Homo sapiens: one gene and its partners. The protein of the gene in region 1 purifies or fractionates together with the protein of each later gene. This does not show direct contact. Each region holds a gene or a part of one and is shown in the gene's direction. Other genes may lie near its edges.

Region 1 (3,651 bases):
TGAGAGCCTGCGTGGGGATTTGAAGCCAGCAACTGTGTCCGTCCCCAAGGGGCTCACAATCTCCTGGGGGAGTGAGAAATAAATAACAAGCATCACCCGAGTGGAGCTGTGGTGGAAGTTGGGCTGGATGCAGTGGACACCAGAGGAGGGAGTGGGTCATGAGACAGAATTCCTGCAGAAGAGAGTTCCTGGAGGAGGAAGGACCAGTGGAAGCATATTGGCAGGATAAAGAGGGTATGAACTGAGTGAGGCAGAGAAGAGGACAAACATGTCAAAAGCTCAGAGGCATAAAAGCATGGATGAGTTTGAGAATTGAGGATTCTCAATTCTCAATGAATTGAGAAATGAGTTTCTGGGCTGCAAAGGCACAGGTTGGAAGGACAGGTTTGGCCAAGTTGCAAGGAGAGTCTCGTGGCTGGGGCGAGAGCCTTGGACGGTGTCCCGAGGAGCTAGGAAGAGTTTTTAGCAGGATCAGGCATCACCCCCGCAACAGCTGTATGGAGGACAGGTGGAAGCAGGGGGCTGGAGGGGAGGCTGTGGCCTTGAAGCAGACTGGGGCATCAGGGCCTGAACTAAGGGCTGTGAGGTGACGAGTCAATGGGAGGGAGGGGAGGGCTAGAGAGACTTTCTGTCGGGGAGAATCAGTCCCAAGGATGAGGGTCCAGGACGACCACTCCTCACCCCCCACCAGCCTGTTCGAGAACACAGGTGGATACTACGTTGCCCAGGCTGGTCTCCAACTGCTTGGCTCAAGCGATTCCCTCCCGCCTCAGCCTCTCAGAGTGCTGAGATTATAGGCAGGAGCCACCATACCGTGCCTATTTTTTTTTTTCTAAACTTGAGTAAATGGTACACCCATACAACAAAATACTTTGTAGCCATAAAAAAGAATGATGAATCTATTTATGTATGGGTATGGAATGATTTCCAAGATTTACTGTTTATGAAAAAAAGCAAGGCACAGGAAATATAGTATACTACCATTTCTTCAAAGAAAAATGGAATTAAACCACTTAAACTTGTTTCTATCCGATTTCACATAAAAGTCTAGATTTCTTTTGAAAAACTAGAAAACCTGGCAACAGCCTCAATTGGCTTGAGGAGACCTGCAGCTACTCCCTGGCCATCCAGTTTGCCACAGTCCCCACGGCTCTTGATTGCTGCCCACCTGGCCAGAACTCCTTTCTCCATGGAGGTCAACCACCTGGCTTTTGTGGCACCTGAGATTGCGAAGTGTCGTCGGGACCTGGGGAGCCTCTCTGTTGCTGTTTCATTTCGCTCTGGCCCTCAGCCCCCACGCTGCTGCTGCTGCTGCTGCTGCCGCCCCTACCGCCAGAGACACCCTGAAGGGAAGCCCGCCCTGGCCAGCCCCCTCTAGGCTCCCACTCACAGCTCCCTCTTTTTCTCCCAGCTCCAGCGATTCAAGCGCTCCCTCTCCCTCAAGACCATCCTCCGAAGTAAGAGCTTGGAGAACTTCTTCCTTCGCTCGGGCTCTGAGCTCAAGTGCCCCACCGAGGTGCTGCTGACGCCCCCAACCCCACTGCCCCCTCCCTCCCCACCACCCACAGCCTCGGACAGGGGCCTGGCTACCCCATCCCCCTCCCCATGCCCAGTCCCACGCCCCCTGGCAGCGCTCAAACCAGTGAGGCTGCACAGCTTCCAGGAACATGTCTTCAAGCGAGCTAGCCCTTGTGAGCTGTGCCACCAGCTCATCGTAGGTAGGTGCCTGGGCACTGAGGCGGCCACGGGGAGGGGCCAGCGTGGGTACTGGGGAGTGGGCTCATGTTGCGCCCAATATTATTGGGCTCTTGCTGTTCAGGAGCCCCAATACTAATTGTGCCTCTGTGCCTCTTTTTTTTTTTGAGACAGAGTCTTGCTCTGTCTCCCAGGCTGGAGTGCAGTGATGCAATCTTGGTTCACTGCAACCTCCACTTCCCTGGCTCAAGGGATCCTCCTGCCTCAGCCTCTGTAGTAGCTGGGACTGCAGGCACACACTACCATGCCCAGCTAATTTTAAAATATTTTTTGTAGAGATGGGGTTTTGCCATGTTGCTCAGGCTGGTCAAACCCTGGGCTCAAGCAATCCATCCACCTCAGCCTCCCAAAGTGCTGGGATTACAGATGTGAGCCATTGCACCCACCCCCAACTGTGCCTCTTACCCAAGGCAGAGAGAGGAGCACCACCAAGGGTGGGGGTATACTCAGTGTCACTGCCTCAGTGTCACTGCCATGTTTACTAACGACTCTGGCTTCCGTGCTCCCTCATACCCTGACTGTGTGAGGGGTAGGTGCTGGGCCTCAAGGCTGGCATGAGAATGCCCAACCCCTGCTCTCCTCATCCCCTAATGTGCCCCTCCTTTGCCTGTTGCCCACGGGGGTGTCCTCAATTGCTGAACCCAAATTCTTCCTAGGAAACTCCAAACAGGGCTTGCGATGTAAGATGTGCAAAGTCAGCGTCCACCTCTGGTGCTCTGAGGAGATCTCCCACCAGCAATGCCCAGGCAAGACGGTGAGCGGGGACCCAGGCAGAGATGGCCAGCTGAGTGCTGCCAGTACTGTCACATGGGAGAATGAGTATCCCTCAGGGCTGCTCCTTCCTGTGGGGTGGGCCCTGGGCTTGGGAAGGACCAAGTTCTCCATAGGCCATGACCTCCTCAAAACCTCTCTGCCCTCTCTTGCCATAGTCCACCTCCTTCCGCCGCAACTTCAGTTCCCCTCTCCTGGTGCATGAGCCGCCACCAGTCTGTGCCACAAGCAAAGAGTCCCCACCCACTGGTGAGTGCCCCCCCTGGCCGCAGTCCCTGCTCCCATTGTGGTGGGATGAGAAATCAACATCCCTGACCAGCCTGGCCAACACAGTGAAACCCCGTCTCTCAATTGCTTGAACCCAGGAGGCGGAGGTTGCAGTGAGCCAAGATCACGCCACTGCACTCCAGCCTGGGCTACAGAGTGAGACTCCATCTCAAAAAAAAAGAAAGAAATCAACATTTCTGAGATGGGTGCCTGAGTCACACTGGCACAGACAGTTCCTACCATTTCCCTTCTCTGGATGTTCCTGTCCTGAATTTGGGGTTCATTCATTCATTCACTCATCATTCCTTCAACAAGCACTTTATTAAGCACATACTAAGTGCCAGGCACAGTGCTGGACTCTGAGACACAGTAGTGAAGAAGGTGGAATTTATTGTCTAGTAAAGGAGATAGGACTGAAATGGACAGTCATGCAAATCATCAATCAATCACCATCAGCATGAGCGCCTTAAGTGGGGAAGATAAGGAATAGAGCATAGAATGTGTGCTGAAAGCTGGGTGTGGTGGCTCATACCTGTAATCCCAGCTACTTGGGAGGCTGAGGCAGGAGGATTGCTTGAGCCCAGGAGTTGGAGTCCAGCCTGGGCAACATGGTGAGACCCTATCTCTAAATTAAGAGAAAAGAAAAAGCTCGCTGTCTTCATCTGCAAAATCAGGGAAGACTTCCCAGAGATGTGAAGGATGAGGCATGAGGGGTTCATCCATTTAGGATCTGGAAAGACTGGTGTGGGGCAGAGGGAAGCCTGAGAAAGGAAGGACAGGGAGTTAAAGAAAGGGCAAAGTGCCAAGTGTGGTGGCTCACACCTGTAATCTCAGCACTTTGGGAGGCCGAGGCGGGCG
Region 2 (3,651 bases), on another chromosome or scaffold:
TGGTAAGCATGTGCAGGCGTGGCTGTGGCAGCTGGGAGGGGCCCCCCATGGCCGGGGTCTGACGGGATGCGCACATCTGTTTCTCGTCTCTTGGTGTTTTTAACGTAAAGGTCTGGTACTTTCCCTTAGGTTAGTATTTTTTGAGACGGAACCTCTCTTTGTTACCCAAGCTGGAGTGCAGTGGCGCAATCTTGGCTCACTGCAACCTCCACCTCCTGGGTTCAAGCGATTCTTCTGCCTCAGCCTCCTGAGTAGCTGGGACTACAGGCGCCCGCCACCACGCCTGGCTAATTTTCGTATTTTTTTTTTTTTTAGTGGAGATGCGGTTTCACCGTATTGACCAGGCTGGTCTCGAACTCCTGACCTCGTGATCCACTAGAGTGCTGGGAAGGTTAATGTTAAATGGGTTGTGTGTCGGGGAGGGTACATGAAAAATAATGGCATCGCTTTGAGCAGTATTGCTGTTTCTGCTTGTGTTTGCATTATCCAAAATCTAATATAGTTTCATTCTGTGCCGTTTTCTCAAAACTCATAATAGCTGAACTCCATTGGCTGAGCCTGATATTTTAGATTTGGTATATTTTCAGGAAAAAGACGAGTGCACATCAGAATACTGGTGTATATCAGACACCAGGGCACGAAGCGCCTTGCACGGTGCGTATCAGACACCAGGACGCAGAGCGCTTCACACAGTGCATATCAGACACCAGGACGCAGAGCGCTTCACACAGTGTATTTCAGACACCAGGACGCAGAGAGCTTCACACGGTGCATTTCAGACACCAGGATGCAGAGTGCTTCACACGGTGCATTTCAGACACCAGGATGCAGAGCGCTTCACACGGTGCATATCAGGCACCAGCACGCAGAGAGCTTCACACGGTGCATATCAGACACCAGGACGCGCAGTGCTTCACACGGGGTATATCAGACACCAGCACGCAGAGAGCTTCACACGGTGCATATCAGACACCAGGACGCAGAGAGCTTCACACGGTGCCTGTCAGACACCAGGACGCAGAGCGCTTCACACGGTGCATATCAGACACCAGGACGCAGAGAGCTTCACACGGTGCACGTCAGACACCAGGACGCAGAGAGCTTCACACGGTGCATATCAGACACCAGGACGCGCAGTGCTTCACACGGTGCATATCAGACACCAGGACGCAGAGAGCTTCACACGGTGCATATCAGACACCAGCACGCAGAGAGCTTCACACGGTGCATATCAGACACCAGGACGCGCAGTGCTTCACACGGTGCATATCAGACACCAGGACGCAGAGAGCTTCACACGGTGCGTATCAGACACCAGCATGCAGAGCGCTTCACGGTGCATATCAGACACCAGGACGCAGAGCGCTTCACACAGTGCATATCAGACACCAGGACGCAGAGCGCTTCACACAGTGTATTTCAGACACCAGGACGCAGAGAGCTTCACACGGTGCATATCAGACACCAGGATGCAGAGCGCTTCACACGGTGCATTTCAGACACCAGGATGCAGAGCGCTTCACACGGTGCATATCAGACACCAGCACGCAGAGGGCTTCACATGGTGCACGTCAGACACCAGGACGCAGAGAGCTTCACACGGTGCATATCAGACACCAGGACGCGCAGTGCTTCACATGGTGCATATCAGACACCAGGACGCAGAGAGCTTCACACGGTGCATATCAGACACCAGGACGCAGAGAGCTTCACACGGTGCGTATCAGACACCAGCACGCAGAGCGCTTCACGGTGCGTATCAGACACCAGGACGCAGAGAGCTTCACACGGTGCGTATCAGACGCCAGGACGCGCAGTGCTTCACACGGTGCATATCAGACACCAGCATGCAGAGAGCTTCACACGGTGCGTATCAGACACCAGCACTCAGAGAGCTTCACACGGTGCATGTCAGACACCAGCACGCAGAGAGCTTCACACGGTGCATATCAGACACCAGGACGCAGAGAGCTTCACACGGTGCGTATCAGACACCAGCACGCAGAGCGCTTCACAGTGCGTATCAGACACCAGGACGCAGAGAGCTTCACACGGTGCGTATCAGACACCAGGACGCAGAGAGCTTCACACGGTGCGTATCAGACACCAGGATGCAGAGCGCTTCACACGGTGCGTATCAGACACCAGGATGCAGAGCACTTCACACGGTGCGTATCAGACACCAGGACGCAGAGCGCTTCACACGGTGCGTATCAGACACCAGGATGCAGAGCGCTTCACACGGTGTATATCAGACACCAGGACGCAGAGCGCTTCACATGGTGTATATCAGACACCAGGACGCAAACGCAAAGCGCTTCACACGGTGCACATCAGACACCAGCATGCAGAGAGCTTCACACGGTGCATATCAGACACCAGGACGCAGAGCGCTTCACACGGTGCATATGAGACACCAGGACGCAGAGCGCTTCACACGGTGTATATCAGACACCAGGACGCACACGCAAAGCACTTCACACGGTGCATATCAGACACCACGATGCAAAGTGCTTCCAAAGCACAGATGCACTGAATGGAAAGAGCATGATGGAAGAGGTTAATCTACAAAATCTAAAAGTGATTCATAAAAACATCAACGATGGCCGGGCACGGGAGCTCAGGCCTGCAATCCCAGCGGCCGGGCGTGGCGGCTCACACTATAATCCCAGCACTTAGGGAGGCCAACGTGGGTGGATTGCTGAAACCCAGGAGTTCGAAGGCAGCTTGAGCAACATAGTGAGACTCTGTCTCTATTTATTTTTTTAAAAAAACAGAAATTTGCTAATAACTAGAGATTCGAATCTGCTAAAATACAAATTAAAGCAGATATACAGTTTAAACTGTGTGTGTGTGTGTGTGAGTGTGTGTCTGTGTGAGTTTGTGTGTGTAAGGTCATAATAGAACCATTAGCCCGCAAGACACTTCATTTATAAAACAAACTCCCTGGAATGATAGAAAATGAAAATGATTGACATACATTAAACTAAGAAGCAGTGAATCTTCAACAGTCACGACCTGTGACTCTGAACCACAGAACTAGAGCGACGTCAGTGCCGTCGTTATACAGGAATCATTGAAGTCTGACCTTGCTGTGTTGTAGCTGATGGTGGCACAGAACTCACTTCTGTAAAGCGGCCTCATTTACAGTGTTGTCTTGTGACTATGTACATTTTAATTAGTAAATATTAAATAAAGTTGAGGCATTTCCTAAGTAGCAGGAGCCACAGCTCAAGTGTTCTGGATCCTCCTGTGGCCGCGGCCACCATCGTGAACACCAAACGGGACATTTCTGTTGCCTGTCGCACAGTGCTGCGCCCGGGAGCTCTTCTGTGTTATCTTCACACCTAAAGCGCAGCAGGGTTACTTCATGGAGTTGTTCTGGACGATCTTCGGGATCCTCTGGGGCACTGTGACACTCGGAGCCCCTGGGGTCGCAGCAGATCGGAGCTGGAGGGTGGCTGGGGGTGCAGGGCAGTCATCTCGCCCATCACCTGGGCTGCCCTTGGCGTTTTCATGTCCCTGCCTTTGAAAGAAAAGTCAGCCTGGCAGCTTTATTTCCCTCCTCGTCTGAAATAGGGTCTCACTCTGTGGCACAGGATGGAAAGCAATGGTGCAGTCACAGCCCACTGCAGCCTCCCCCTCCTGGGC
Region 3 (3,651 bases), on another chromosome or scaffold:
AGGTGGTCAGCAGAGGTCTCTTTAAGGAGGTAACATACCAAGGCCAGGTGCAGTGGCTCACTCCTGTAATCCCAGCACTTTGGGAGGCCAAGGTAGGCGGATCACCTGAGGTCTGGAGTTAGAGACCAGCCAGGCCAACATGGTGAAACCCTGTCTCTACTAAAAATACAAAAATAGCTGGGCATGGTGGTGGGCACCTGTAATCCCAGGTTGAGGCAGGAGAATCGCTTGAACCCTGGAGGTGGAGGTTGTATAGTGAGCCGAGATCGTGCCACTGCACTCCAGCCTGGGCGCAGAGCAAGACTCCGTCTCAAAAACAAAAAACAAAACAAATAAAAGGTAGAAACCAAAATTTAGAGAAGTCAGGGGTCTCACCCCAAGTCATAGAGTTATTTAAATAGCAGGGTTGGGATTCAGAACTAGCTTTCAGGCCACTGAATTTCAGAGTCCTGGCGCTTTGCCACTAACCCATCACCGTCTATCCCAAGAGGCTCCCTGAATTACTCTAACATCTTACATTTTCCAGTTTTTACGCTTTCCTTCATTTATTTATTCATGAGTTCAACAACTACTTATTTCAACTTTCAGATGACCCCAAGAGATAAGAGACCCCTAAAAGAGAAAGAGAAGGAGGGAGGGACCTGAGGCCTGCCCAGAGTTACCCAAGTAGGGAGGCTGGGCTGGGACTCAGATTTTTTTATCCTTCATCTTCCAGCCACTGTTCAGGGAACAGGCAGGGGCCTATCCCCACTCTGGGAAGAAAGGAGGGGAGTGGGAGGGAAGGCACAATGGCCCACTTAGTCTTTGGCTCCTTTGCTGTGAGTCCCTACACCTGGTTCCTGTTGTGCCCAGAGGCATGGGTCACACAGCAGACCCATGGTAACCTAGGTTGGTGACCTAGGTCACCAACAGAGCTGGTTAGCAGCTGCCAGGCCTCACCCTGGCACATGTGAGCCCAGCTGGGGGTCAGGGGCCTGGTGCTGCTAGGAGAGTCTTACCCTTCCCCCAAGTCCATGCCCAGATATGTCATCTGGCAGACTTCCCAGCCTAGGGGCTGCCACTTGGCCAAGCGAGTCTTGGAGGTTCCAGCAGAAATAATAGCAGCCGTAAGATTTCAGAATGTGACAAGCCTCACAAATGAGGGAACTCGTGGCTCCTAGGCCAGGGGAGAGCTTCCAACCCAGCCAATTTGGGAGAAATGATGAGCAAGGCCTGAGGGAGTGAGACTGCGAGAGAGGAAGCCTGGCACGCGCAGTTGCACATCACTTATTCCTGCCAGACTCTTTCTTCCCTATCTGTAAGATGGGAGGTTGGGCTCGCTCTGTATGTTATTGAGCTGGTTGTCTCTTTGACATCTATAAGAAAAGTTTCTTCAAGATCCAAGTATATACAATTCGGTGAAGCAGAGTGTGCTGACCCAGTAAGAAGTTGTGTGAGAGAAGGGATGTCTTAACAGCCATCTCGCTGAAACGGCCATGCAGGCACCCACCAGCTTAGGGTATTGCGGCTGCTGGGAGTTGGCCTCTGTGATTCAAGCATCCCTTTGACCCAAGGCCCCCTGCCCAGGCCCCAAGTGTAGACATGGCCGCCTCACCTTTCCCTGCCTGTCTTCCCCTGTCCTGCCTTTGTGCCCCCTCTGCCTGCTCCACTTGTGTTAAAGGGTGGCTGGTGAGGGAGGGCAGGAGCTGCAGGAGCTCCTGGGCGCTTTAAACTGCTTAGCATGCATTTCACAGCCTCTCTGGGGCCAGCTGTTCCTTTCTCTGCTCTCAGGGCCTGTTTGCTGATCCCCTCTCCACCTCCCTCCTCCCCACACCCCTCCCAGTCCCTGTGCAAAATTGCTTTTGAAAAGATCCACTTTCTGCTTAATTAAACAATGAGGAGGTCCCCTCGCACATCTGTAAACCTCCTTCTGAGGCCAGTTTAGCCCACAAACTGCTCCATTCTTACCCCCATTCACTTGTAAATGGCCCCTCTGATGTTCCCTCCACCCCCTCTCCTCTGTTACTCCCCCCTTGCCAGCTCTTTCTTTTCCCTTTTCAACTGAGGCCTGGGGTGGGCTCTCCGAAGAGCCGTCTTGGAGCCTGGTGGACTTGGTGGGGACAGAGGCAGTTTAACCTGTGGAAGAGAAGACTTAGGGGATCCTTTCTTCCAAATCTGAAGGGCCATCCTGGGGAAGAGGGGGTGCATTTGTTGGCATGGTCCCCGTGGACCATTCAGGCCCAGTGGGTGGGAATGACAGGAAGACAGATTTCTGCTTGGGAGAAAAGAGCTCTTAACAATCAGAGCCGCTCCACAGAGGAGCTGACCTCCTGTCCCTGGAGGTGTTCAAAGAGAGGCTGGATGAGGGTCTGTTACGCCTGCGAGTCAATATCAGATACGACTTTGAGGTTGTTCCGTTTCAGTCCCACGAGGCTGAGGCTGACACCCTTTGGGGCCCTCCCACAGTGGGCAGTCAGTGTCCCCCAGAATAGGACAAGTCCACCGGGGCGAGGGATTCTGGTGGAGCTTGCGTCGGTGCTCTCCACAGTGGGTATCCTCCCTTTGGCAGCAGCCTTTAGAAGGTACTGGAGCCCAGAGGATGAGGAATCTGAAGTCACTGTGGGCTTACAGCTCAGAGCAGCCATCTGTTGAGCGTGTCCTGTGTGTGTGACACTGCCAGGCCTGCCTTGGGCATTGTGCCTTACGTAATCCTCAGCAGCTCTTGGTGTTTGGATTATTATCCCTGCTTGTCAGAGGATGACACTGAGACAGCAAGATGAAGTGACTTCCTAGCTAAGGCCATCGAGCACACAGCCGAGGTCCTCTGGCTGTAGACTCAGAACTCAACCACTCCAGCATAGAGCAGCAGCTCTCATTGCCTGCTCTGCCCCCGATGGGCAGGCCAGGTGCCAAGGTATCCTGCACTGGAAACCTTGTATTAAGTGCCCATCTCCTTCCTCTGGTGCTGTGTGCCCGGGGGCAGCCTGGCCGCCAGCACCTACAGACTCAGAGTGTCATTCCTACCACCTGGGTTGTACTGGGAGCATTGGCCAACCCCAACATCTTGTGGGTTCAAACATCTAACACAGAAGGAAGGTCAGTATCTAGGACCCCTCACTACTCTCGCAGTCCCCTCATTCCCTTTCCAGCTTCTGATGGGAAGATACGGGATGCCACAGAAAACCCCAGCCGGTCCCAGCACTATCTGATTAATGGTTGGCTCTACCTTGCCCTCTAAAGCTGAGGTGCCAGGCCACTGGGCAGAGCGTGCAGAAACCCAGAGAGCGCGAGGGGTATAGGTTCTTCCTCTGGATCCTGGAGTAATTACAGCATTGATATGCAGGGCACAGTGCTGAGAGCTTTGTATATATCGTCTTATTTGATCCCCCACAATGACCCTATGAGACAATGTTAACATCCCCATTTTACAAAAAAAGGAAGCCGAGGCTTCCTATTACCTAAGGTAATAGAACTAGTAAGTGATGGAGTCCAGCTCAAAACCAGGCCTGTCTGACTCCAGGGTCCATACTCTTAGTCTCTTTCTTCCTCCCTCCTTCCCTCCCTACCTCCCCAGTTGTCCACTCAAGTAATGGTAATGGTAGTGCCATACATTTGAGCTGGATCGTGATTCAAGTGTTGAGTCAGAGACACATGGAAGCACAGGCCTGGGCA

What was found.
Region 2: the proteins of STAC2 (region 1) and ANKLE2 purify together in Homo sapiens (affinity purification with mass spectrometry; one large-scale study listed by BioGRID and IntAct). This does not show direct contact.
Region 3: the proteins of STAC2 (region 1) and URM1 purify together in Homo sapiens (affinity purification with mass spectrometry; one large-scale study listed by BioGRID and IntAct). This does not show direct contact.

Annotation. Positions count from the first base shown.
Region 1 is NC_000017.11:39,215,934-39,219,584, reverse strand, and holds part of STAC2 (SH3 and cysteine-rich domain-containing protein 2), read left to right. Parts: intron 1-1,411; coding exon 1,412-1,718; intron 1,719-2,411; coding exon 2,412-2,509; intron 2,510-2,684; coding exon 2,685-2,775; intron 2,776-3,651. UniProt on the Homo sapiens protein: Plays a redundant role in promoting the expression of calcium channel CACNA1S at the cell membrane, and thereby contributes to increased channel activity. Slows down the inactivation rate of the calcium channel CACNA1C.
Region 2 is NC_000012.12:132,730,736-132,734,386, reverse strand, and holds part of ANKLE2 (ankyrin repeat and LEM domain-containing protein 2), read left to right. Parts: coding exon 1-2; intron 3-315; coding exon of another isoform or gene 316-371; exon of another isoform or gene 372-528; intron 529-3,651. UniProt on the Homo sapiens protein: Involved in mitotic nuclear envelope reassembly by promoting dephosphorylation of BAF/BANF1 during mitotic exit.
Region 3 is NC_000009.12:128,381,374-128,385,024, forward strand, and holds part of URM1 (ubiquitin-related modifier 1), read left to right. Parts: intron 1-3,651. UniProt on the Homo sapiens protein: Acts as a sulfur carrier required for 2-thiolation of mcm(5)S(2)U at tRNA wobble positions of cytosolic tRNA(Lys), tRNA(Glu) and tRNA(Gln). Serves as sulfur donor in tRNA 2-thiolation reaction by being thiocarboxylated (-COSH) at its C-terminus by MOCS3.